Linked DNA regions of Homo sapiens. The protein of the gene in region 2 interacts with the protein of the main gene of each other region in a biochemical or structural test. Each region holds a gene or a part of one and is shown on either strand. Other genes may lie near its edges.

The links.
Region 1: of the proteins of FYN (region 2) and SNCA, one has a biochemical effect on the other in vitro, tested with the Homo sapiens proteins (3 studies listed by BioGRID).
Region 3: the proteins of FYN (region 2) and FASLG form a complex in vitro, tested with the Homo sapiens proteins (4 studies listed by BioGRID and IntAct, with this or other methods).
Region 4: the proteins of FYN (region 2) and KHDRBS1 form a complex in vitro, tested with the Homo sapiens proteins (4 studies listed by BioGRID and IntAct, with this or other methods).

The regions. Positions count from the first base shown.
Region 1 is NC_000004.12:89,729,153-89,736,180, forward strand, and holds part of SNCA (alpha-synuclein), read right to left. Parts: intron 126-7,028; coding exon 42-125; intron 1-41. UniProt on the Homo sapiens protein: Neuronal protein that plays several roles in synaptic activity such as regulation of synaptic vesicle trafficking and subsequent neurotransmitter release.
Region 2 is NC_000006.12:111,695,441-111,702,468, forward strand, and holds part of FYN (tyrosine-protein kinase Fyn), read right to left. Parts: intron 4,829-7,028; coding exon 4,664-4,828; intron 4,231-4,663; coding exon of another isoform or gene 4,075-4,230; intron 1,017-4,074; coding exon 837-1,016; intron 1-836. UniProt on the Homo sapiens protein: Non-receptor tyrosine-protein kinase that plays a role in many biological processes including regulation of cell growth and survival, cell adhesion, integrin-mediated signaling, cytoskeletal remodeling, cell motility, immune response and axon guidance.
Region 3 is NC_000001.11:172,655,008-172,662,110, reverse strand, and holds the start of FASLG (tumor necrosis factor ligand superfamily member 6), read right to left. Parts: upstream 3,009-7,103; 5' UTR 2,910-3,008; coding exon 2,562-2,909; intron 2,017-2,561; coding exon 1,971-2,016; intron 1-1,970. UniProt on the Homo sapiens protein: Cytokine that binds to TNFRSF6/FAS, a receptor that transduces the apoptotic signal into cells. Involved in cytotoxic T-cell-mediated apoptosis, natural killer cell-mediated apoptosis and in T-cell development.
Region 4 is NC_000001.11:32,023,856-32,030,883, reverse strand, and holds part of KHDRBS1 (KH domain-containing, RNA-binding, signal transduction-associated protein 1), read right to left. Parts: intron 587-7,028; coding exon 462-586; intron 1-461. UniProt on the Homo sapiens protein: Recruited and tyrosine phosphorylated by several receptor systems, for example the T-cell, leptin and insulin receptors. Once phosphorylated, functions as an adapter protein in signal transduction cascades by binding to SH2 and SH3 domain-containing proteins.

The DNA.
Region 1 (7,028 bases), on a different chromosome or scaffold from region 2:
TTGGTACTGTCTTGTTAGAAAGATTCAGCTTGGACTCCTACCTCAGAAGGCATTTCATAAGCCTCATTGTCAGGATCCACAGGCATATCTTCCAGAATTCCTTCCTGTGGGGCTCCTTCTTCATTCTAATATTTAAAGTAAGAAGCACAAAAAGAACATGATGAAGTAGCATTTTTCACTTTTAAAAATCAGAACCATGTTTTGGAAAAATCTTACATATAGGGATGTTGGCCACGGATCTTGAAAATGGCACACCTTAATATTACTACTGGCATTCTAAACTCCACAATGCCTCCGGGGAAACATTGCGGCAACATGGGTTATCAACCCTCAAAGTATGTAAACTTTTTGCTCAAGTAATTTACTATTTAGGAAATAATCCACAGCTATAGTCCAAAGATATTTTTCACAAGATCAATGACAGCAGGAAACAAAATTTTTAGAATTGTTAACTAAATGTTCAATGAATAATGAAGAGTTAAAAAATTATTGCTGGGTGCAGTGGTTCACTCCTGTGATTTCAGCACTTTGGGAGGCTGAGGCAGGTGGATCATTTGAGTCCAGGAGTTCAAGACCAGCCTGGGCTGTTACAATGAAACCCCATCTCTACTAAAAATACAAATAAATAGCTGGGCATGGTGGCACATGCCTACAGTCCCAGCCACTTGGGAGGCTGAGGCAGGAGGATCACTTGAGCCTGGGAGGTAGAGGCTACAGTGAGCCATGTGCATGCCACTGCATTCTAGCCTGGGTGACAGAGGGAGACCTTGTCTTAAAAAAAATTATCATTCAACTACTCAGTAGATTATGATAAAGACCTGTATTACTATTACCTGAGAATTATGTAACAACTACCTATTTATGGTATAATATTTAGCAGGCTATAAAGTGTTGTCTATATTATAGATACAACCTACACAGAATTCAGACGCAAAGGTAAAAAGTTTGGAAGAAAACACAATAAAATATGAAAGTTATTTTGTTGGATAGTATGTATGTTATTTTGACTTTTTTTCTAAGTGTTTAACTTTTATAACCACTTATAATGTAAAAGCATACATATTTAACACATTAATTTTAAATGACAATGAAGAAACAAATTCTTTTCTGAAATTTGAAGACTGAGACTATACATATTGAAGGAAAATAATCAAATACATGGTCAGAAAATTTTTCTAGGTATCTCTTCCTAGACAAAGAATACTACAAAACTCAGCCTGAAATGGTCATGGCTTTGTTGGTATTCTTCACTAAATACCTTTTGTTGCTTTGCATTTATTTCAGCAAAGTAATTATAAGAAGATAAAGGTAAGTGAAAATTCAAAGAACAGAGAGGCAATGTGAGCCTAAAGGGACTTGGAGAAAGAGATCAAATAATCCCTCAGCCAACGCGGCTGATTTTCAACAACATGTCTGATGTAAAAAAGCTTCCCCATGTCTTCACATGGAAGTGACTGACAGGGACGCAGAAGTATAAGAAAATGGCTAACAGTAAGAAAAGGTCACACTAAAGATCATGCTTATGGTAGGTGGGCAGAGAAGCTTACAGATCATTCTGCCCTTGCCAATGCCCTTTTTATAAACTAAAAAAAATCCAAATAATATATAAATTAAATAAAATATGAACCACCCCAAACTACCTCACTTTAAAATGTGGAGTAAACATACTGTTTTCGTAGTGTTTCACTTCTTGGTAGATACGCCTCTGCTGCAGGATGGCTAGGCACAAGGCCTTCCATGTCACAGGACTTGAGCTCAAGTCCTAGCTTCTCTAGATGACAGAGCTTTTGTGATGCTGAGAAGTTTCCTATGCTTTTTCTGAGTGTCAATTAGTCTTAGTGATCAAACGGGACAGCAAAACCTTCTTTACAACAGGGAGAAGGAAACGACATCATTAACTTTCTCATTAATATTTAGATTACTGTTAGGATATCCAAGTATAAGGGAAATAAGGCAAATTTTTTTCCATGATTTTGAAACTGACAGAGATTTGATTTTCTAATATAATTTGTTAGAAAATTTTGATATGGACCAGACAAGTAAATATGGCAGACCTACCCTGTTTGTTGTTTGATGATCAAAAAGGAGTTGTTATGACGGAACTAAGACTGATGGATATTACTGGATTTGTTTATATGTTATTTGGCTGAACTTTGAAGGATGTACACAGATGTGTAGGTTAGGTGAGTGTGTGTGTCTGCATGGTTCCAGCCTGGGTGAGTGGGTGTGTACAAGAGCACCCTGCAGTAATGGAACAGCGTCCTGTCCGGGGTGGGTTCCCATATTGCTCCCTGAGCTGCCAGGATAGGCTCCAACCACCTGCGGCCTCCACCGAAATAATTAGGTAAGTTATTTGACTTGTTTGTATTAATCTTTCTTAAACGTATATATAGCTCACATTAATTTCAATGTTTAATGTCAGAAGTGATTTATCTTTATTTAGGAGTTTGATGGTGTTTTTGTGTCCAGAAATTTGCCATAGGACTTAATTCTTGCTTATATCAATTAGCCAATGGTAAAACTGGTTTTGTTATATGTTGTTTTGCTTCAAGTCACAGTTTCCAGAAACTATTGATGAAGTTAAGTGAGGATTTACTGTATTATGTGCCCTCTGATGGAAGTACATACACATCACCATCTTAAACTAAGACTGTACTAGTTTAAGTGGGCTATTGTTCACTGATCCAATAACTTCATCAAGTGGGAACAAGCTACACTAGGGATGACAGCACAATCCTATTCTAGAGTCCAAATCGACAATAGGGTTTACGACCTCGATGTTGGATCAGGTCATCCTAATGGTGTAACTGCTATTAAAGGTTCGTTTGTTCGACAATTGAAGTCCTACATGATCGGTGAGGTCAGGAGATCTATAGCATCCTGGCCAACATGGTGAAACCCCATCTCTACTAAAATACAAAAAGTTAGCCGGGCGTGGTGGTTCTCCTATAGTCCCAGCTACTCGGGAGACTGAGCCAGGGGAATCACTTGAACCCGGGAGGTGGAGATTGCAGTGAGCCCAGATCACACCATTGCACTCCAGCCTGGTGACGGAGTGAGACTCCGTCTCAAAATAAATAAATAAATATATAAATAGAAAAAGAAAACAAAAAAAGAAAAGCCCTACGTGATCCGAATTTGAATTTGATTAACATTTAACTATCACTGACAACTTACAGCAAATATAAGGTGGTGAAAAACATGTTCATTGCTTACAACAGTGGCTACAATCAGCAAATTTTGCACTGTGAGAAACTACACAAGACAAAGAATACGTCTAATTTCAATAAGTAAATTGCAACTAAAAAGAAGTTAGTGGGAACCTGCCGCTTAAAGTAGAAGTGAGAGAGCATTAGCCAATTGCAACCTAAGAACTTTATTTCATTCTCATTGGGAACCCTACATAAGCAAATGGAAAACACATATGAGGTAGTTGGGGAAATTTGAACACTGACTTGATATTTAAGAATTATTGTTTATTTCTTTAGGTGTGATGATATATTGCAGTTTTACTTCAAAAAGTTCTTAACTTTTACAAATTAATTAAATGTTTACAGATCAAATAAGATATCTATCTAGGTTTGGGTGGGGGAAATGGGTGGGATATAGAAGAAACATGAGTTTAATATTTCATCAGTTTTAAAAAGTATATACAGTAGTCTCCTTTTATCCGTGGTTTTGTTTTCCATGGTTTCAGTTGCCCACCACCAATTGCAACCCCAAAATACTAAGATATTTAGAGACAGAGAGAGAGGGAAAGAGAAAGCGAGACCATACCCACATAACTTTTATTACAGTATATTATTATAATTGTTCTCTTTTGTTATTAGTTATTGTTGTTAATCTCTTACTGTGCCTAGTTTATAAATTAAACTTTTTCATAGGTACATAAGCATTGGAAAAAACAGTATATGTAGGGTTTGCTACTATCCGCAATTTCAGGTGTCCTAGTGGGGGTTTCAGAATGTATCCCTGTAGATAAAGGAAGACTGCTGTATGCTCATTTCAATAGTTAGTTCTCTAACTATGTTTTTCTGAATATGTGATCTAAATTTGTTGACTCTATCACATTCGTAGATTTTAAGCATACTAAAATATTTGGCAGCTATTCCAAGGAGAATATAACAACAAACACTTCATATGACCATCAGACACAATTTTATCCCTATACCTGTATATTTACTGTTTCATAAACCTATTTCTAAAAACATTGTTATCTATAAAGAAATATTAAATTTCAACTCCAATTTACAACTGTGCCTAATATAGTTTGGCTGTAACAAAAAAAGAACATTAAAATTTGCATTTTATGAGTATTCATGACTTGTTTTCAAAATATAATCATACTTGAAGGTGTGAAGTGCACCTTCTATTTATTTTTACCACAAACAAGAAAAAAAACTACCAATATAACAAATGTTAAACACTTTTGAAAAAATCAATTTTTTCTCAAATTTTCATTATGATATTATATTAACCCAGAATATGTTAGGGCAATAAAATAAATGAGAAAAACGTCTGGATTTTGGTATATGCCTGTATGCTTAATAAGAGAACCTACAGGGTAGGATATAGAGACATAGTAAGAAAATACCTTTTATTCTCTCTCTACTAGGCCCTATCCCTGGAATAGCTGTAGACTTTTTTTTTTCAAATGGGATTGTTTTACGAACAGTGAAATAGACTCAGTTCAGTATCTTATATCTGCATTTGACACACAGAAAGAAAAATGGTTATCAAAAAATTACAATGGAATGACCCTCATTGCTAATAAGGAAAGACTTAAAAGCTATATTAGGAAACAGAAATGGCTGAGACTGACCTCTTTCTCCCTAAAAAGCTTATTCAAGTTCTTTTTAAATAAACCTGTAGGGTTGAATAGCTGATATAACTGATTATCATTTCGTACTCGTCCCAGCTGAAGTGCTCTATAAAACAGATCATGAGACGAAGCTTCCTTCACTGCTAATAGCTTATTGGGAAGTACAATTCCAGGGAAGTGAAAGTGAAGGAAAAGGGAAGTGATACAAGGAGAAGTAGGAAAAAATTTCAGCTACTGTCTTTAGGAATACAACTACAGAATTTACATAATCTTTTTAAATTTCCTGTTTTGAACCATATTGTATTTAGATACCTAGTAATACTTTCTGTAAGGAAATTATCTTTATTCAATTCTATGACTTATAACTTTAATTTTAAATATATTTAAAATGACACATAATAAAGGCAAAAATTGCTTTCCAAACCACACTCTTCTAGAATCATCTAGGGCCCTTGTTAAAAATGCAGGTTTGTAGGGCCTTGTGAGTGTCTTGTTAAGTATGTTCCTTGGAAACCACTGCCCGACATCACCAATTGTTTGTAAACCCTGTGGTATAATTTAATATAGAGTATACCAATGTACTTGCTGTCAGTGTGAATAATTTTTTTTAAAAAAGATATGCTCATTTTGAAGTCCATCAAATGTTGGCAAATGTTGAGGGTTATCTGAAGACACTGGGAAGTAATCCATGGTGATCGTTAAAATAGCAAGGTTTCATCAATTATCTGGTATCTATGCTTTGTCAAAGTTAGAAATGTAGAGATACATTTCTAAATTAAAACTTTTATGTGGGAAGAAAAATTGAAATTCAAGGCTGGTTGGTCTTTGGTATACCCAAAGAACAAAGAGGAGGTTGGAGGTGTTCTGAAAAAGAGAAATGATACACGCTGCTCTTTGAGAAAGTTCATTGGCACTAGAAAGGTTCTGGGGAGCTAGTAAGCTTCAATTGGTGAGTGACAGTGGTGGGCAAAATTAGTCCTAGAGCTGCAGCAAGTTTTTTCAGCAGTTACAGAAAAAATTGGTCCCAGGTTACAACAGGCAGCCTCAGCATGCGGACTTGTAGAAAATTACACTTTTGGAGCAATGTGATGTTTCTTGAATGCTTTTCCTCCCAGGCTTCTTGATTGTTTTAGTTGGGTATAACAAGAATGACCCAATTTGTGTGATCAACTTTCACAGCCTTAAACATTCAAAGCAGCAGAAGCGCACTTTCTCTTTTGCCCACTGCTTTTACACTTGAAGATATTTTGGGTAGAACCATTGTTTTGCTGCATTATTGAACAATGTCACTTAGCCTCAAATAATGGAATTAATACCTTCACTCAACAACTCACACCAGGAGGATGAAGGAGAGAGATAGTAGCCAAAAAGATAAAAGAAGAAACTAAAAAAGAACTTTGACTTAAGAGGAAAAAAAGGTTCAACTTAAGCACACACCCGTGTTCCAAAATGAAATCAAGCCCAGAACTCGTATTTAAATAAAAATAGCATAGACGTTTCAAAAATGTGAATATTCTCTACTTCTCTACCTCAGACAGGGGAGTGTGTACATAGTGTAGATAGTATATTTCACTAAGAGAATTACCATGTATTTTATTGATGCACTTAAAAATGAAGGCGATAGACATGAATACCTTGTTAAAAAGCAAGGTAAAGATATATTTCATATGTTCAATTTTCTATTATCAATTCCTAGTCTGCTCATAATGCCATTTTGGGGTGGGGAGCAAAGGGCATCTGATTCAAAATCAAACTAATCTCAATTTTTGATAAAATCTAAGGAATTTTATTTTTAAAACATTGAATTAAAGCAAACTTTGGATACTCTGATTTCTCTTGAGGTCATAAATCCTCTGCCTTTTTAAGAGATCTATGTGGAGAGGAACAACTCTGGGTCTTAAACGAATTATTGAGGTCTTGTTTTGGAAAGGCTAGATATTTTGTTAAAAAATATAAGATTTCAAAAAACCTAAAACTTTGGACAATGTTATTTAATCATCAAAAGCAAAACAATATGCATATTTCAGAAATAACACTATATTTTCAGTCTTACTATTATGCATAAGAAAGAACAATATAAAAATAATGTAATGATTACATTTATTGTTTACATACTCTGAGGAGTATTTAATTGCATCCTAGTAAGTATATTCTGTCACATGAGAAGCCATAGAAATTGGCATGTTCTGCTGTATCCAATGCCCAA
Region 2 (7,028 bases):
TTAGAACTAACACCAAAGCAGGGATAATCATTTGCAGAAGCTGGAGGCTTATGATGGTCATCAGTGATATTTTATGCTTTAATCACAAAGTTATTTACAAAATAACCCTGGATACAAAGGACAAACCGTTTGCCAGAAAAAAAAATTCCCATTAAATTTTAAAAGAAAGTACATGGAAAAGAAAAATTACACTGGTATCCTCTGATAAACAATGTATTGCCTTTTAAGGCTGTTTCTTGTTTGGTTCATCTATTTTTCCAAAACAAAATGATCTCTGGCCTTATCCCTAACAATGCTGGTTTGATTAGGAAGACAGAGGGGTTGTAGGGGAGAGAATGTGAGAATAAATGTGGTCTCTGAAAGCATGTAATTTCATCGCCTGACGTTTAAGAAGAGAGCTGGAAATAAAAAAGATGTTGAAATGATGGAGACTAAACTTAGCTTAGAGACCAGTGTCTGATATTAATTGTTTAGCCCTGCAAAAAGGAAATGTAACAAAAGCTACTACATTCAAAATAACAGCAAACTATCATAACCCTCCGTACCACCCTGATATTAAAAATGAATGTTTTAATTATGGAGAGGAGCTTGAATTTCTGACACACATAACATGTAAAAAGTATTTGGCATTTCATAAGGATTTGGGGTGGGGTAAACGCAAGGTTAGTCTGTTTTAAAAAATGTTTTCATTAACGAGCACATAACTGGTGGTTCCTAATGGGAATACTTGACCCAGGCAGAAACTAGAAAAGTAGCAAGTAGGAAACTTCCATTTCTCTCCCCTAAACAACCCCTTAAGGCACTGTGAGCTGGAGACAGGAGAGGTGTTGCCCAACCTTTGTTCATATACTCGGTGACGATGTAGATGGGCTCCTCAGACACCACTGCATAGAGCTGGACCAGCTTGTCGTGCTTCAGCTTCTTCATGATCTGCGCTTCCTCAAGGAATGATTCGGGGGACATTGTGCCTGGTTTAAGAGTCTTTATGGCTACTTTTGTGTTTCCATTCCAGGTACCTACAAACATCCCAGAATATGAAGTCAAACCAAAGATCTTCTTTTGATGGAAAAAGGTTTTGACCACCAGCTATTTGCATAAGATTAGATTTTAAATTTAAAACACTTAATACAGTTTTTGTTGAACAAAGACATTCAATTGCAAGGACTCTGTCAAGTATTTTAACAGAAAAAATGAGTTTATTTGTGGTTATGGCTAAGATGGCTATATTAAGATTTATAACTCATTAAAATTTTTTTAAATTTTGATATATTACCACTCTCTCTTTTTTTGGCTCAGTCATATGATTACACATTTATACCAAAAGCTCTGCACCATACAGTGATGAAAGTCCAGGGGTTGGAACAGGCCTGGCCATCTAATAGCTGTCCCTTAGGGAGTACAGTGTGCATGGAAGAAATTAGATTATTTAAGTTTATGGGGTGTGCCATTTAAAAATATGGCACCACATGAGGATGTCTGGAAATTACCTCTAGACTTTCAATGTCTGCAATGGACAAGTTACTTGACTGAGTCCTTGCACAGGTGTGCCAAGCATGCTGATAAGCACTGGCAAGGAGCTCACAGTCTGCTTGCCAATACTTCAACAAGGTAAGGCAAATTTCCTCAGCTTTACTGATGGCTAGCCACAAGAACAATGGCTTCTGTCAGGTAGGTAGACAGGGGAAATTAAACAGCAGCTGAGAGGGAACAGAAATATTTAAATTTAGCATGTTAAAAAAAAATCTAGCAAATCTGAAGGCAAGGCCTGGATTATGATTGTCCTCAGTTACCTCATCTGTAAAATATAGGAATGGAACTGGATTATCTTTTGGGTCTCTTTCAGCCCCAGCATTCAAAAAACAAAACCATACCTAGGTTCTTTGTGTATTCCATTATTAGACCTATGATGCTTAAGAATAACTTTATAAAGGGGAAGAAATCTGCTAATTTAGATTATTTTCTATTTGAAAAAGAAGACTGGTTTAAATTAAGATTTTTATATTTAATATAACTGACTTTGGAATTTAAGGATTCTGTAAATTGGAGTTCTTATTATCCTGTTAAAGACATGGTTCATACAATTACAACATGCAACCTACAAAATATAAATTATGAAAAAACAAGTGGCTTAAAGAAAAGTTCATTTAAACTTCATAAAATATCTGCCCACTAAGCATTCATGGGAAATTTGACAATTTATAAGTGATCTTTGCTATTTAAGAGTCAGCACCCAAAATTCTAAATACATTAAGATCTTCCTCTGTAATACAAACTTCGTCAATTACACAGACATCCATCCCAATTCTGATGGGCATGTTGTCTTGTGTTTATTGGAAAACAAAATGTGAACAGTATATGTAATGATTTAAAGTTGATATTTGTAAAATTTGAAAATAAATTTTCTAATAGGGTCCAATTCTCTGTGATTGTGTGAGTAATTTGACTAAAATCCTCTATTATTAGAGGGTGAATGAGGAAGAAGGAGGTCATATATTTTACGATACTTGAGATTAAGTCCAGAGAGAGATGGACACAATAATGTGGATTTATTAAACTAGCTAACTCATACATATATATGTGTATGTCTGTCTACTACCTATTTATCCACCTAACATACCTACATACATCTTTGTAGTACTTATCATTTGCTGGGCTATGTTTTAAGTGCTTTAACTGTATTAACTCTTTTTTTTTCTTTTCTTGAGACGGAGTTTCGCTTTTGTTGCCCAGGCTGGAGTGCAATGGTGCAATGGTGCGATCTCCGCTCACCGCAACCTCCACCTCCCAGGTTCAAGTGATTCTCCTGCCTCAGCCTCCTGAGTAGCTGGGATTACAGGCATGCACCACCATGCCCGGCTAATTTTGTATTTTTAGTAGAGGCAGGGTTTCTCCATGCTGGTCAGGCTGGTCTCAAACTCCTGACCTCAGGTGATCTGCCTGCCTTGGCCTCCCAAAGTGCTGGGATTACAGGTGTGAGCCACTGTGCCCGGCCACCTGTATTAACTCTTTTAATGCAGACCACACCTAAAGATCTATACCCACACGTAGCAAAGGGTACTGATCGATATTGTTTTTAATGAGTTCTGAGGAAGGAAGATAGAGGATTCCATAAGTATTAATATTGTTTTACTGAAACATGTTTTTGAGTGGGGCCTAAACCCATGAATTGTTTCTAAGCAAAGCTGTAACTGACCCAAAAGGGCTATAAAAGAAATTACAAAGGCCCAGTGCAGCCAGCCTTATCAATGACAATCAAATAAAGAGAAGTATGTATCTCTACTGAATATCTACTATCTGCAAGGGACTTTAAACATATTAACCCATGTAATCCTAAAAATAATCCTTTAAATAAGTATCATTCCAGCCGGGCGTGGTGGCTCACGCCTGTAATCCCAGCACTTTGGGAGGATGAAGCTGGCAGACCACCAGGTCAGGAGATCGAGACCATTCTGGCCAACATGGTGAAACTCCGTCTCTACTAAAAATACAAAAATTAGCTGGGCGTGGTGGCAGGCACCTGTAATCCCAGCTACTCGGGAGGCTGAGGCAGGAGAATCACTCGAACCTGGGAGGTGGAGGTTGCAGTGAGCCAATATCGCGCCATTGCACTCCAGCCTAGTGATAGAGCAAGACTCCGTCTCAACAACAACAAAAAGGTATCATTCCAATTTTACAGATGAAAAAACTGAGGCTTAAAGGAGTTAAATATGCCCCTTGTTCGTGGTTAATTAGCTAGTAAGGATTCAAACCCAGGCCCATTGAGCAAAACGTCCATGGTCTTTCTTATGGCTGCCCATATACAGTATCTTACCTTCCCATTTCTTAGGAAGAGGAAACACCAGATTCATAGTGTACTGGTTTCCTGTTCTGCGGGTGCCTTAATTAACCACATGAAGTAGGACAGATGAGCACAGCAAGGTATCAGCATATTCTGAAAATCTGGATGGCCTGTGCCCGTCTAGTTATCCAGGTTAAGTGTCTTTGTCCCAACGGCTGTGTGTGCATTTTTGTTCAAAACCATCCTTTTAATCGGCTTTGAGATGCAGCCAAAACAAAATGTGCCCTCTGCCTTACCAAGCCACACTTCAGCGAAACACCCCTGACCCAGCTTCTTCTCCAGACACAACGAACGACGTGCAACTTCCCAAGCATCTTTAGCCAATCCAGAAGTTTGTGGGGTACAACTCGATGCAATCACAGTTAAGTTAAAACACAAACCATCAGCTTTCTCTACAGGAAAGGGAATTAATAAAGAAAACACAGTCCTTATAATCCATAATTATGCATGCACTAGGAAAGATGGAAGGTGACTTGCCCGTTAGGATGACACTCAACAAATATTTGCTTTTGGAAATGAAGAGCAAGATATTTTATGGCAGCTGGAACATTCCTTGGACCATTTGCTGGTTTATGAATTGAGAGTCATGTAATAGTACAACTTGAGCCATTTGCCAATTTTGCCCACTTACTATCTTTTTTTTTTTTTTTTTTTTTTTTTAGGAATTCCAGAATGTTAAAACCAAAACTGAAATTATTATTCCCCACTATTAGTAATTCAAACTTTCTTCCCGGTCACGCAGTCTTTATTTTCACCTTCCATCTTTGGTGTTTGGGATCTTCCAAACGGGGAAGCTAATAAGAGAGTAATTGAGTCTCAGCATACCCATCCATACTTCCCCAAACTGCCCATTTCCCAGTCTCTTGATCAACTGCAGGGATTCTCGAGGGATTTCCCAGACATCTTTGGTTTTGACAGACAGATCGGTAAGCCTTGGCATCCCTTTGTGACAGGGAACTACTAGGCGGCAGCAGAGACCTGCAGCTCTCTCTGATGGAGCAGGGCAGGGGCAGGAGAGGGAGAGAAGAGCAGAACACATGTAATGACAACACTCATAAGTGTAAACCCACACTAGCGGCGCACAGTGCTCCTCAAACAGTGCTACTACACCAGCAGACGACCACACACATCGTGGAACACTAGCAGCACACAGCGCTCCTTAAACAGCGCTACACCAGCAGACGACCACACACACGGTGGAAGATCAGACGCCACACACGGAAACATTTTCATTGGAGGTAGAAGAGAGGACGTTTTAAATTTAGACTACTCCATGAGCCCAGGTACGATACAGTCTATACATAGACATACACGCAGACTGCTTTGGTTTCTGTACTCACTGAGGAAGAAAAACGTTTTCAGCTCAACGTGCTAATAACATGTTTTTGGGAATGCTGAAAATATCCTTACTAATTTCAAACAGTGGTTTTGGATTAAAGAATGTCAATATGACTGTTCTTCCCCACCTTTAGTATCTAGATTACCCAGGGGATTAGGGATCTCTCTATATGACTATACTTAAAATTATAACTTTAGTGGAGGATCCTTCTATAGGACATTAAACTGTTATAAACTAGTAAGGTTGAAGATTATAACTGGTGGGGAAAAAAAGAAGTAACTTTTTTTAGTGATTTCTTCGCTTTCTAACTGATTCCATTCCACCATGTCAGATACTCCTGGGCTGCTTCTTGGATATTTTCCATTAAAAAAAAAAAAACAACTTTTTAACAGTCTTCGACGTATAATTTAGGTGTCTGGTTTGAAAGGAGAAAGAATGGAAACTAAAATTCACAGAAATTCAAGATGTGAAAGAATGTATTCTTTATAAAAAAAAGAAGAAAGGAAAAAGTAGTTAACACTCGGAGGTTTTTATTCTTTCTTTGTCTTCTTTCCTTCTTTCTTTCTCTTCTTTTTTAAAAAGAATATAACCTTTTAGAATCTGGCAGTGCTAAGGGGAACTTAAATGCCAAGTAAAAATCAGTCAGGCGAAAAAAGGTAACAAAGAATAAGAAATCAGGGAGTGACAAAAGCTGACAGAGCCTGCCTTGTGAGGTGGACAGACCTCCCGCTCCCTCCTGGCAGCCCCCGGACCCAGGGAAAGCAGATGTGCTGCTGGGCTGTAACTTGCTTTTTACTCCTTTCTTTTTGATGGAATCAGGCTCTGAGATGTTTAGGTAGGAAATTATTTATGTGTCAGCATTTCAAAGGCATTTTATTGTGTGAGAGAGAAAGAGGGAAGAGGGAAAGCCAATATAAAAACAAGTCTAACGTGAGATGGATTTTTTTTCCCCGAGATTAAAAAAAGTGTCTATTGTTCATATCCCCTCTTTCCTTCCAGCTTTACAATGTTATTAAGGTGCCCTTTCGAACACAGTATTTTCAAATGATCCAAACCCTGGGGATCCTGCTGATGTTTGGCTGTAATGAAATATATTTCAGCATTTGAAAAATCCTTACAACATGCAGGCATTTTGAGTATATCACTTAAGCTCAGGGAGATATTTTGTTCCATTTCTCCCAAATGTTTCATTAGAATCCACATAAACCGAGTTAGCCAATGCCATAATCAACTAGTACTGCAAGTGCTGTTAATATTTTCTATTGTTCATTAGTGCAAGGGATCAACAGACATTTCTTATTGTCATTTTCGAAAGATTGCTTTTTCATGCCAAAAATTATACATACATATTTCAATGATTGTGCACAGAGCAATAGTAGAGGTAAATCATATACTATTTTTGAGTCTTGCCTTTGTCCTGGAGAACAATAGAAAATGGAGAAATGGGTCACACAAAAAAATATCTCTAGGCTTAATAGGATATAGACATGTGTCTATACATGTGCACCTATATCTATAGGCACATGTGAACATGTATTATATAGTGGCATATAATACTTGCTAATCTAGGAAAGAAAGCAATCATTTTAACAATTGCACATAAAACCAGTCTTTGATAAAATGTATAAACTGCATATCTAATAATTATATGTTTTCAGAAAGAACAAAATAATGGTGATATCTGGGTGTTAGGACAGAAACTGATGTACATTATAAAAGTTTAATTTAACACAATAGACATAATAGATCTAAGAGCTGTGGGTTGTGTAAGTCTAAGCCTAGTTAGGAAACAGCAGTATTGGTGGGGAACATGATAAATGGCTTGCATGAGAATGAAATGTACGTGCAGCT
Region 3 (7,103 bases), on a different chromosome or scaffold from region 2:
TTTTAGTTGCTGCTTATTATGTGCTTGTCTGAATACACCATAATGTATATAACTAATCTCGTATGAGGCATTCAAGTTTCTTCTGAATTATTTATTATAAATAGGCTCATAAGGAAGTAATGAACATCCTTATATATAAATCTTCGGGCACATCTCTGATTATTTTCTTAAGATAAATTCTTAGCGATAGGATTACAACGTAAACTACTAGTTACAAGCTTTTGCTATGTATTTCTAAAGCGCTCTTCAAAAAAAGTTATAGCAATTTACATGTATACTGGCTGAAACTAATGTTTGCACAGGCACTTTTCTCTCAAATCTTTGTCAGTCTGGGTTTTTTTTTAATCTTTATTAATTTGATGAAAATTGGTATTCCCTATTTTTAATTTGCATCTCTTTTCTTATTAGTAAAGTTACTGATTTGATTTCCATGTGATGATTTACCAATTTCTGGTTTATTTGGGTTGATCTAGAGAACATAATTGCTTACTGGGGTAGATGGATCTGACTCACCTGATCATTTGACTTTTAATCACTAAATTGACTCCAGAGAGTGGGTGAAAGATGAATAATTAGATACCTATCAGACCAGGCACATTCCACAGATTTTCAAAATGATCTTATTTCAGACGTCCTCCAGAGGCTTTACTTTTCTATCAAATATTTCCACTCTGCTTGTGTACATATGGACTTTCTAACATTTAAGGATTAGGACACAGAAGCAGGGGCCAGAGCATCCCAACAGTGGCTCATATAAGAACTTAACAGTCTAGGATAGTAGACAGGCGACTGGGTCATGTGCAGTAGCCACATCCGGAGAAACTGGAACTTGCTTCACTTAATAGATGGCCAGTGCTGCCTTCTTCTTTATTCTGAGTTTCTAAGGATGAGATCTACCTATAGTCTTTGCAGAGGTATCCTGCTTTTCATCTATTTCTTATTCCATGCTCACTACAGAGAGACAGGAGTTTCCCTCCTTCATGAGGCACCAGTCCAGTACTGGAAAGCCCTGTAGGTGACAAGGCATCAAGAGCCTGTGTTCCTTCTAGCCCCAATGGCATACCAGTGGTCTTGGGCATATTCACCTAATCCATCTGGTATTTTGTTTCTCTTCCAAAAAATGAAATGGCTGGACTAGATATATTCTAAGCTTCCTTCCACCTCTAAAAATTCAATGAATCTCATTGTAAATCTAAATCTAAAATTTCAATGAATCTTAGACTAGTGAAGCACACTGTAAAATCTATCTGTACAGAGCTTGCACAACTATGCCCTGAAATTTCATGAGATCAGTGTTCAACCTATCATCTTCTTGCCCTAGCTCCCATACAAAGGATTTTCCTTTGTGATCAAGGGTACCTCATGACTGCCTCTGTGGGTGAAGCTGAACATCCTTTGAATGATGGCTGAAGTCTTCCCTTAAGCTTCTCAGTGACTTCAAGAAAAACCATTCTAATGTGGGGAATTGATTATCCATGTTTTAAAAGCTTACATCCTATAAAACATATTGTAAATAAAGCTTCAATGTAATCTCTTTAGGGCATTTAAAAGAGGAAAGGACGTTTCTCAGAAACATCTGTCTCTGCCTTCATTTCGCCTTCTCTTCCCAGGAGTTACAGCCACTGGCGTGTGTGCCAGGACCAGGATGTCTGTGGAAGGGGACAGGCCTGGAGCCACTTCTCAGGGGGCAAAGGTCCAGGGTTGTATATGTGTGTCTCTTTCCAAAGTCAAGTGGAAGTGATTTTGAATTGTGTGCAGTGCTCAGCTATATTGATTGTGAGCAATTCAATTCACTTCACATTTTTAAAGCAGCTCAAGGAATCATAGACCAGAGATTCTGAATTAGCCAGAATTCCTCTTATAGTGTACAGAAACCAAAGTGTGGGACAGAATTTAAGGCATTCCATTAACATAGTTCTGTGCTGAGGATCATCTTTGGGAACTCAATGTACATGCGAAAAAAGACTCACCTATTTGCTTCTCCAAAGATGATGCTGTGTGCATCTGGCTGGTAGACTAGTAAAACAGAAAGAGAAAAGATGTATAATAAAAATAAAATTCTTTAAGCAAAAGAGGCAGAATCGTCAAATAAACCAAGCCCTGGAAAGAGAATCCAAATACCTCAGAAGTTCTGCTAACTTGGGCTTTGGCCAAGCAATTTTGCCTCACTGTCCCTCAGTTTTGTGATTTGGAATCGTACCAATTTTCAAGATTTAGTTTGGTCATCTGAACAAATTTACTTCCAAGCAAAACTTAAAAGTTTTGTTTGTTTGTTTTTTACTCCTTAAATCAATAGGTATGAGGCAGTAAGTGGTTCAACAGACTGAGTTGACAACTGAGGAAAGACAAACTGTTGGGCTCTGATTCTTTACAAAGTAAAAAATATTCCCTTCACCCCTATGAGCCTCCATTTCTCTGTCTATAGAATAGAATAACTAGAACAACCCATTTCTAAGAAAAAAAAAAAAAGGATTGAAAAGCACTTTGCAAGCCAGGCAGTGGGCCCTCCATCCCCTTATGCCTGGTGCCTCCAGGGCACAGCAGTCTGCCGGCAGGCTTACCTCTCGGAGTTCTGCCAGCTCCTTCTGTAGGTGGAAGAGCTGAAACATCCCCAGGCCCAATCCTACCAAGGCAACCAGAACCATGAAAAACATCACAAGGAGACACAGGCCTGTGCTGTGGTTCCCTCTCTTCTTCAGGGGTGGCAGCGGTAGTGGAGGCAGTGGTGGCGGCGGCGGCGGAGGTGGTAGTGGTGGCGGTGGCGGTGGTGGTGGTGGCCTCCTTTGACCAGGCCTTCTGGGCACAGAGGTTGGACAGGGAAGAACTGTGCCTGGAGGGGCCCAGGGAGAGCTGGCACTGCTGTCCACCCAGTAGATCTGGGGATATGGGTAATTGAAGGGCTGCTGCATGGCAGCTGGTGAGTCAGGCCAGCCCCAGCAAACGGTTTTACTTCTTCTCAGTCCTGTAGAGGCTGAGGTGTCAAGGACGGGACCCTGTTGCTGACTGCTCAAGAGGAGGCAAGCTGGATCTCTCTTATAGAGTTTCCATAGCTAAGGGAAACACCTCTGTCTTTCTCTTTCTCTATCTCTCTCTCTCTGATTCTGCTTCTCAAAGAAACACCCACTCACTTTGCAGCTGAAGCTGAGAAGCCTCAAGAAGCTCAGAGCAAACCCCTGGAAGTTTCCGCCCACAATTTTCTGATAACAGCCTTCAAGGCCTCAGTTGCTGTCGCTGTGCTACCCAAACAGGTTAGTAGGCTATGCTCACCTTCCTGGGATCCTGCAGAGCAGGTCAGCATGGGGGTATAGCCCTGTTAGTGTGAACTGCTCCCAGCTACAGGAGAATGGTCAGTGGGGCTATAATTTTATGAATTATAATTGCATGCTTTTTTATACATTATAATTGTATAATTTTAAGAATTCTACCATATACACAACCAAAAAACTATTTAAAAATCCCAAAATAACTCTAACAAAAATTGTTCAGAACCGTATTTTTTAAACTATAAAAATTTTACTGAAAATGGCTCTGAGGGGAGAGACCATGGAGTCATGGCCAGAGAAGTCACTCCCACATTTTAGTTTTTGCAGGAGGAAAACATCTGTTGCCATCATCTCTTCCCCACACACAACTACCATTTACCCTGACCTGCCGATCACCATAATTTACAGGTTAAAAACCTGCTACACCCACTTTAGAAATTAGATCAGAGGCTGCAAACCAGTGGAACCCACAGAGCTGCTTTGTATTTCGCAATGTTTTCATTTTCATTGTTTGCCCAGTTTATTTATTTACTTATTTATTTAAATAGAGACAGAGTCTCACTCTGTCACCCAGGCTGGAGTGCAGTGGTGCTATCGTAGTTAACTGCAGCCTCAAACTCCTGGGCTCAAGCAATCCTCTTGCCTTGGCCTCCTGAGTAGCTGGGATTATAGGCATAAGTCACTACACCTGACTAATTTATTCTTTTTTTTTTTTGTACAGATGGGGACTTGCTATGTTGCCCAGGCTTGTCTCAAACTCCTAGCTTCAAGACATCCTCCTGCCTCAGTTTCCCAAAGTGCTGGAATTACAGGCATGAGCCACTGCACTGAGCCCAACTGACCACTTTTAATATCAACATTAAAAATATTTTAAAATATATATATTAAATACACATTAAAATACATATTTCTATTCTGTTTTGAAATATCAGAATATCAGACACCCTCGAGGCCATCTCTGCAAACCCAATCAGTGGGAAGTATGTAGCAGCTGCCCCTGAGAATGAGAGACAGGAGTTCTGGGTCACCCAGCCTCCACCACTGGCCTGTGTCTCACACACCACCTCACTATCTGAAAGGCCTGCCTGGTCCCTGCCAACATTTCTGTGTGCTGCCCCTGTTATGGTTGCCAGATGAAATACATGGTGCCCAGTTAAATTTGAATTTCAGATAAATAATACATTATTTTTAGGACAAGTAGGTCTTAAACATGTCCAAACATGGAATATACTAAACAATTATTCATCATATATCTGACATTCAAATCTAACTCTGTGTCCTATTTCTTTGTTTTGCTTTTTTTTTTTTTTTTTTTTTTTTGGTAGTTGTTGTTGTTGTTTAAAGCTGGCCTCTCTACTTGGGCTCATCTCACCATTTCCTCTGGCCTCACATACCATTTATATGCCAATAACTTCCAAGTAGTTAGCTTCAGTCCTAATCATTCTCCAATAGAAGCCAAATAAATCCCCCATAAATCAAAATTTTTCATTTTTTTCATGTTTATTACTTTTCAAATTTCGTTAGTTTTTATATCATGCTTTGGGATTTCCATTACTATCATTCAGGCCCACTCACCTGTACCACACCAACCCCAAGGGTACTATTTCTCTGATACATTCTGCCCATCCCACCCCATCCCCAACCCTGTACAACCCCTTTCTCCTGAGGCCACTCTTTCTGGTGGCAACTTCATCTCCTTTCTTTTCCTCTCCCCCAACGTTTAACTGGTCACCCAGGACTGTCGCTTTTACCTGAGACCTGTTCCTTACCCTCCCCTCAGTGTACTGCCCCCCTGCCCCATCCTCGCTACTCCCATTTTTCTTACTGCTGTTGCCTGGGGTCAGACTTTATCTCTCACTTGAAATACTGCAATAATGCCCTAACAGGTGCCCTGCCACCGACCTTTCCCAAGCCCAAATCACCCAGTAAAATGCTATAAGAAAAATGCTTTTTAAAAAACAAACCTAATGATCTCACTTCCCTGCCTTCTGTTGGAAGGTTTGATTCAGGAGCAAGGCAAGCTTCTTACCGTTACCCAAGGCTCTTTAGCGTCAGCTCCTACTGCCTCCTTACCAGGCACTCCTGCTCACATCCCACTCTCCACTCTTAAACAGTGCAAGGGATGAGACTAGCAAGACAGTGCACGAGTTAACGAGCTTTTGAACTCACATGTGACTTTATTCATCGTTATGAATTCAACTAACTTTAAATTTCATAATCAGAAATTGTAATTTTAAGAATTCTACCATATAGACAACAAAAAAACTATTTGAAAATCCCAAAATAACTGTAAGAAAAATTGTCCAGAACCATATATATGTATTTTTTATTTTTTTGAGATTGAGTCTTACTCTGTCGCCAGGCTGGCACGCAATGGCGTGATCTCAGCTCACTGCAACATCTGCCTCCTGGGTTCAAGTGATTCTCCTGCCTTAGCCTCCCGAGTAGCTGGGACTACAGGCACATGCCACCACACACAGCTAATTTTTGTATTTTTAGTAGAGATGGGGTTTCACCATGTTGGCCAGGATGGTCTCGATCTCTTGACCTCGTGATCTGCCCGCCTCAGCCTCCCAAAGTGCTGGGATTACAGGCGTGAGCCACCGTGCATGGCCCATATCTTTTAAATTATAAAAATTCTACTGAAAATGTCAAAGATTCAAATAAGTGGGAAAAATACACCATATCCTGGATGGGGAGGTGGTGTTGCATGATGGTTGGGAGTGGGTGGTTCTGGAGTTAAACTATGTGACTTCCAATCCCAGCTCTTCTGCTCATTAACTGTGTGAACTGGACAGGTCACCTTCCCTCCTCGGTGCCACAGTTTTCTCATTTATAAAAATAAGCATGATCATAATAGTACTTGCTTTACGGGGGTTGGGAGGATTAAATGAGTCAAAGCATTTGATACACTTAGAATAGTCCCTAGCACCAAGGTAGGCACTCAAAAGATGTTGTAAATTTAGTGAATCTTTCCCCAAATAATTCATCTGTAGACTTAATATAATCGACCTTCTTCCATTAAGGACAAACAAAGTGGAGAGAGGGAGAGAGGTTGCAGGGGAAAGTGCAAAGTCCACGTTTGACATCCAGTATCTCTCTGAGATCCTACCCTGAACTGATGAGCCTCTCCATTTCAGACTAGTACCTCTCGATTTTTCTATCTCAAACTCCCACAGGAACTTCCAGCACTGTCCAATAAGAATTATGCTGTATTTTTACATCTCCTTCTTCCCTGCTGCTTCTGTTGATTCATTCTGCAACAGAAGAAATTAGAAGACCATACCTGCCCCCAACTCTCCTGCTATCCTCCAGGCATAGAGAGAATCTGAACTGAAATAGAGTCAAAGAGAGCATCTTTAAACACTCATATTGATCTTCAGTAATGCCACCAAACATCACAGGTTGGCAAAGTCATGGAAAAATAAAACAACCCTATGTACAATAACAGGGACCCATTATGTTTTGGGGTATTTCCAAACCTTATTAATAAGGAGAAATAATTGTTACAAGTAGATCTTAGTTCTGTGAATGCTAAAGAAAATAATATTTGCCTTTGAGAGATGAACTTAATAAATAAATCAAAGGCTGGTGGCTCCCACAGGCTGGGAATTTAAATGGAAGAGCTTTGCTAAGTCTTGCTCTACCCTCCCCAATTACACCTGCAGAATCTCTGATTCTGGAACCAGAGGTTCCTTGAGGATAGACAAAGGAGAAATATTCAGAGCTGACAATCTCTTTGAGGAGGAGGGGGGGGCTTACGAGCCATAGAGATTCAAAGGGACCTGGGTGACACTTGGGAGCAAATTTATATGGAGGACAAAATAGGAGAAACCACCT
Region 4 (7,028 bases), on a different chromosome or scaffold from region 2:
ATAAACTAAATGTAACTAAATGCTTTCCTAAAAAAAAAAAAAGGAAGAAAAAAAGCATTTACTTAAAAGTAAACTTTTAGTAAGAAAATAAAATTAACTTCAACCAATTGAGGATTCATATTATATTTCCTTTTATTTAGATTTCAGGTTAGTCTTTTGACAAAGAGCAACTCTTCAGGTTTTAATTTTTTTTTCTTTGAACTTGTAGCCTGAGCAATCATTTGAGAAAGAAACTTTTTGATAATAAAAAGATGATTATATTTCCTTCCTGGCTATAGCTATGTTATTAGTTAAGAACTTAGATATTTCAACTCTCAGTAACAGGTACTACAAGCATGAAAGAGAAGCTTCACAGGCTTAAGTTTCTAAAGCATCACAATCCCCAGGAGTCTTTATTATAGCCCATGACTCTCTCATAACTATAAAGATAACTCAAAGATCCAAAGCACTTTTTGCCTTACCTTGGGATACTGCTTGACAGGTATCAGCACTCGCTCTTTCAGTTTCATGTTCTTATGAGAAAATAAATCCAAGTAATTCTCCTCATCATCCTTTTTTGAGTCTCCTTTCTGAATCTTCTCAATTTCTGAATAGGAAAAACAATTTATTTTTGCCCTGGTAAATAAATGCAAATTTTGAAGTCTGCTTAAAGCAATAACATGGAATACCATATAGTGAAACCAAATAGTTCACACAAATGTGCCAATTTCAGAAAGAAACTAGCTGAAAGCACTAAAGCTATATGAAGTTGACTAGAAAGCCCAAAGCCTGCTTCTAATAAAAGAAGTGTACTCTTCCACCCTCACCTGAAGCCATGACAACAGAGACATTTAAATGTTTCTTAAATCAATTTAACAAAATTAATTGGGTGAGATGGGGGAAAGGAGAATAAAGAAACAAACAAAAAAATCAAAATCTGCATCAAGACAAAGTATAATCTTACCTTGAAAAAAACAAAAGTAAATAATCTAAATATACAATGGATAGTTCCATTAAAGTTCCACGGTGACATTAGTACTCTAGATACTAGTCCTTAAGAGTCTGAAAGACCTTATTCTTACTCTGCTACTCACTAGTCGTGTGACCTAAGTTAATAAAATACGTAGATATGCCTAATTAAGGCCAATTTTTCATAAAGTACTTAATATATCGTTACCGTTATCTAGCCCAAATTCAGCCAATGCCTAAATGATACAAAATGCACAAGGTACTTTTTTTTCTTTTTTGAAATGGAGTTTCGCTCTTTTTGTCCAGGTTGGAGTGCAATGGCATGATCTCGGCTCACTGCAACCTCTGCCTCCTGGGTTCAAGCAATTCTTCTGCCTCAGCCTCCCAAGTAGCTGGGATTACAGGTGTGTGCCACCATGCCCGGCTAATTTTGTATCTTTAGTAGAGAAGGGTTTTCTCCATGTTGGTCAGGCTGGTCTCGAACTCCCGACCTCAGGTGATCCGCCTGCCTCAGCCTCCCAAAGTGCTGGGATTACAGGCGTGAGCCACCGCGCCCAGCCACCAGGTACTTTTTAAAAAAACATTTTATTGAAGTATAACTGATATGTAAAAAGTTATACATAATTAATGTATACAATGATGAGTGTGGAGATAAGTATACACCCATGAAACCATCACCACCATCATGGGCACAGACATATCCATCATCACCTAAAAGTACTTTCAATTCGCGGGTTAAGACAGTTTCATTAGATAGAAACTTGGCATACAAAAAGATTTCCTACCATTAAGGAACTTCATTCATTGAGTGACTGCAAGTGTTTGAGTGCTTCCTATAGTATGGAGAGGCAGATGAAGGGAGGGCTATAATAGGTACAATCATTAACCACTATGGAGGACTTAATAAGAGCCAGACATCTGTCTTGCAAAGCACAGGAGATACAATAGAGCGAGTCAGACTGGTCTCTTGTCTTCACTGTTTATATACTGGAGTTCCCAGACTATAGAGGTGGCAATGAAGTAAAGTACTATAACAGGAGTTCTAATAGAGATGAGGGCAGAGTGCCCAAGGATGAGTAGCAACTGAAAGCTTATATGATCCACTGAGAGTAGTTAAAAAAAAAAAAAATAGGCCAGGTGCGGTGGCTCACGCTTGTAATCCCAGCACTTTGGGAGGCTGAGGCAGGAGGATCACAAGGTCTGGAAATCGAGACCATCCTGGCTAACACGGTGAAACCCCATCTCTACTAAAAATACAAAAAAAATTTAGCCGGGCGTGGCGGTGGGCACCTGTAGTCCCAGCTACTAGGGAGGCTGGGGCAGGAGAATGGCATGAACCCAGGAGGCAGAGCTTGCAGTGAGCCGAGATCGCGCCACTGCACTCCAGCCTGGGCGACAGAGCGAGACTCTGTCTCAAAAAAAAAAAAAAAAAAAAGTATATATAGTATATATATATACGTGTATATATATATACTCCCTAAAATCAGTGGAACATTCTAAATATCAGAGAATAGTCTGTAATAGAATATTACATAACATTCCCATCTTCTATAATTTTAAGGCGGGGGTTCTCAAACTTCTTCATGCATCACAATCACCTAGAAGAGGGCTTATTAAACTAGATTGCTGGGCTTCAAAGCCAGTCTGGGATTTGTGTTAGGAATTTGCATTTCCAACAAGTTCCCAGGTAATTCTGATATTGCTGGTCCAGGGACCATACTTTGAAAACCATTGGCTTGAAGTATAAAGACACCCTACCTCAAACACGTTCCACAAATCTATACCCTTAACAGTTTTTATTTATTAATTATTATTTTTTGAGACAAAGTCTCGCTCTGTCACCCAGGTTGGAGCGCAGTGGTGCAATCTCTGCTCACTGGAACCTCTGCTTCCCGGGTTCAAGCGATTCTCCTGCCTCAGCCTTCCGAGTAGCTGGAACTACAGGCATGCGCCACTATGCCCGGCTAATTTTTTTCCCTATTTTTAGTAGAGATGGGGTTTCACCATGTTGGCTGGGCTGGTCTCGAACTCCTGACTTCAGATGATCCACTCGCCTCGGCCTCCCAAAGTGCTGGGATTACAGATGTGAGCCACCGTACTGGCCTAACAGTTTTTAAAATAAATATTTAGAGAGGTGCAGCTGTGAAATATATAGACGAAGAAAAATAACTTTGACTCTGACATGCCTTAGAGAATTTAGAATTTCAGACTGAATGCTTGTTTGTTAAAAAGCCTAATTTCAGATGCTATACTATACCATGAACTAATAGACACATACTTCCTGGTTTTCTGACAATTAAAATTGCTGATGAATTGTAAATATCCTTAATTAAAAACCTTTACTCCTATGAGAAGAACTGTAAATGACAGTGCTCTTCACAATCCTGTTTCAGTGCTTGGAATAGAAAACAAATTTGACCTTACAGTTAACAGAGTAATGCTTCATTCAACAGTCTACTTGTGAGGGTAATCCTAACCCTAACCCTTACTGTTTGGTGGCAGATCCTGACCTCTACTTCTTTTCCCCTACTGCTAATATACTTTTTCTGATCAATCTTTTTGAGCCTACTGTACCTGACTACACCACTTTCTAAGTTCTCAGACTGGAAAACTTAGTTATTCAATCCTCAAAGTCCTAGAAGAACAAAGATGCCATAATTCTGATCTGAGAACATCACCAAGGAGCTTTTAATAATGTGGAACAGGCCAGGAGAGGTGGCTCATGCCTGTAATCCCAGCACGTTGGGAGGCCAAGGTGGGCAAATCACCTGAGGTCAGGAGTTCGAGACCAGCCTGGCCAACGTGGTGAAACTCCATCTCTACTAAAAAAATATATACATAGACCGGGCGCGTTGGCTCACGCCTGTAATCCCAGCAGTTTGGGAGGCTGAGGTGGGCGGATCACCTGAGGTCAAAAATTCGAGACCAGCTTGGTCAACATGGGGAAACCCCGTCTCTACTAAAAATATAAAAATTAGCCAGGCGTGGTGGTGTGCACCTGTAATCCCAGCTACCGAGGAGGCTGAGGGAGGAGAATCGCTGGAACCCGGGAGGCAGAGGCTGCAGTGAGCTCAGATTGCGCCACTGCACTCCAGCTTGGGCGATAGGGCAAGACTCCATCACAACAACAAAAAAGAATGTGGAACAAATTAGATACTTCATTTTATCTATGTCGCTTTGTGCTTCCGAGGGCTACCATTGAGTTAGACCTTTCAGCTGTATTTTATACCACTTTCCAGAAACCTTGGTCAGTGCAAGACGATTCAAAGTCTGTTCATCTGCTATACTCCTACAAGAAGGTGTGTTTATATGCAATGTAATGCACTCTGTGAATTTAAGGCCTTTCATTTTTTCATTTCTTAAAGACCAGTGTGATAGTATAAGACCTTTCTATAACATGGATTCTTCTATTTTTGAACTACTCAGATCTTAGAATCCTTCTGTCCAATTATTTCACAACTTTTTAAAGAATAGCAGTGGCCAGGCATGGTGGCTCACACTTGTAATCTCAGCATTTGGGGAAGCTGAGGCAGAAGGATCACTGGAGCCCAGGAGTTTGGGACCAGAGCGGGCAACATAGTGAGACCCCTTCTCTATAAAAAATAACAAATTAGTCAGGCATGGTGGTATGCGCCTGTGGTCCCAGCTATTTGGGAGGCTGAGGCAGGAGGATAAGCAGTTGGAGGCTGTAGTGAGCCAAGATCATGCCACTGCATTCCAGCCTGGGTGACAGAGTAAGGCCCTGTCTCAAAAAAGCAAAGGAAAGCATTTTTAGAGAATTCAGAGAAGGATCATTTAAATAAAACAGAGGGTTGAAAAGAGAATCAGAATTTTAACCTACAAAGCAAAGGACTGGTTGGGCACAGTGGCACATGCGCTTGTAATCCCAGTGCTTTGGGAGGCTGAAGCAGGATGACTGCTTTGAGCCCAGGAGCTTGAGACCAGCTTGGGCAACACAGCGAGACCCTGTCTCTACCAAAAATAAATAAATAAATAAATAAATAAATATATATATATATTTAAATTAGCTGGGTGTAGTGGTACCTGCCTATTATCCTACCTACTCAGGAGGCTGTGGTGGGAAGATCGCTTGAGCCCAAGAGTTCAAGGCTGCAGTGAACTATGATGACTGTGCAACTGCACTCCAGCTTGGGTATCGAAGGGAGAGAGGAGGGGAGAGGGGAGAAAGGGAGGAAGGAAGGAGGGAAGGGAGGGAGGGAAGAAGGGAGGGGGCAGGAAGGGAGGCAGGGAGGGGATGAAGGGAGAGGGAGAGGGAAGAAAAGGAAGCAAGCAGAAGACTAAGAAGCTACTCGAGCTTTCAAGAAGGGTGGAGGGGGCCAGGCGCTGTGGCTCATGCCTGTAATTCCAGCACTTTGGGAGGCTGAGGCGGGTGGATCACCTGAGGTCAGGAGTTCGAGACCAGCCTGACCAATACAGTGAAACCCCATCTCTATTAAAAGTACAAAAATGAGCTGGGCATGGTGGCGTGTGCCTGTAGTCCCAACTGTTTGGGAGGCTGAGACAGAAGAATTGCTTGAACCCGGGAGGCGGAGGTCACAGTGAGCTGAGATCGTGCCACTGCACTCTAGCCTGGGTGACAGAGCGAGACTCTGTCTCAAAAAAAAAAAAAAAAAAAAAAAAAAGGAGGAGCCGAATTTTTTTTTTTTTTTTGAGATAGGGTCTCACTCTGTCACCCAGGCTGGAATGAGTGGCACAATAATGGCTCACTGTAGCCTCAACCTCCTGGGTTCAGGCGATCCTCCCACCTCAGCACCCCCAGTAGGTGCAACCATAGGCGCGTGCCACCATGCCTGGCTAATTTTTTTTATTTGTAGAGATGGGGTCTCCCTATTTTGCCCAGGTTGGTCTTGAACTCCTGGGCTCAAATGATCCTTCCACTTCGGCCTCCCAAAGTGCTGGGATTATAGGCGTGACCTACTATGCTCCCCCCGCCTTTTTTTTTGTTTGTTTTAAAGAGATGGGTTCTCTACTGCCTAGGCTGAAGCATAGTGACACCATCATAGTTCACTGCAGCCTCGAACTCCTGAGCTCAAGTGATCCTCCCACCTCAGCCTCCCCAGTAGCTAGGACTAAAGGTGCGTGCCACCTTACCCAGGTAGGGCTGAATATTTATTTGATGCCTACTATATATCAAATACCATAGAACTATTACCTCATTAATCCTCAAAAATAACTCAGTGAACTGAGTTACTTACATCTGAGGCAACAAAAACTCAAAGAGGTTAAATAACTATCTCTAGGTCATAAAATTGTTAAAGTAACAGAACAAGAATTAAAAACCCACGCCTGGCTGGGCACAGGGGCTCACATCTATAATCCCAGAACTTTGGGAGGCCGAGGTGGGAGGATTGCTTGAGCCCAGGAACTTGAGACCTGCCTGGGCAACAGAGTGAGATCCCATCTTTACTAAAATTAAAAAAAAAAAAAATAAATTAAATTAGCTCAGTGTGGTGGCGTACAACTGTTGTCCCAGTTACTAGAGAGGCTGAGGCAGGACGATCACTTGAGCCCAGGAGTTGGAGGCTGTGGTGAGCCATAATGGGCGCCACTGCATTCCAGCTTGGGTGACAGAACAAGACCCTGTCTCTAAAAAAAAATTAATAAAAAATTTTAGAAAACCCCCAAACTCAGGCCTTTAGGCCTTTTCTGACTTTTTTTTTTTGAAACGAAGTCTCACTCTGTCGCCCAGGCTGGAGTGCAGTGGCACAATCTCAGCTCACTGCAACCTCTGCCTCCCAGGTTCAAGCAATTCTCCCTACCTCAGCCTCCTGAGTAGCTGGGATTACAAGCATCTGCCACCACGCCCAGCTAAATTTTGTATTTTTAGTAGAAAAAAGGTTTCACCATGTTGGCCAGGCTGGTCTTCAACTCCTGATCTCAGGTGATCCACCCACCTTGGCCTCCCAAAGTGCTGGAATTACAGGCGTGAGCCACCGCGCCAGGCCTCTAACTTCTAATTTCATGCTTTTCCTATTGTCTCTTGATGAGTGTGTGTTTGTGGGGGGCACACTTTATTTAAGCAAGGAAGAGCTGACTTTTATAAAATTTTAAGTACAATT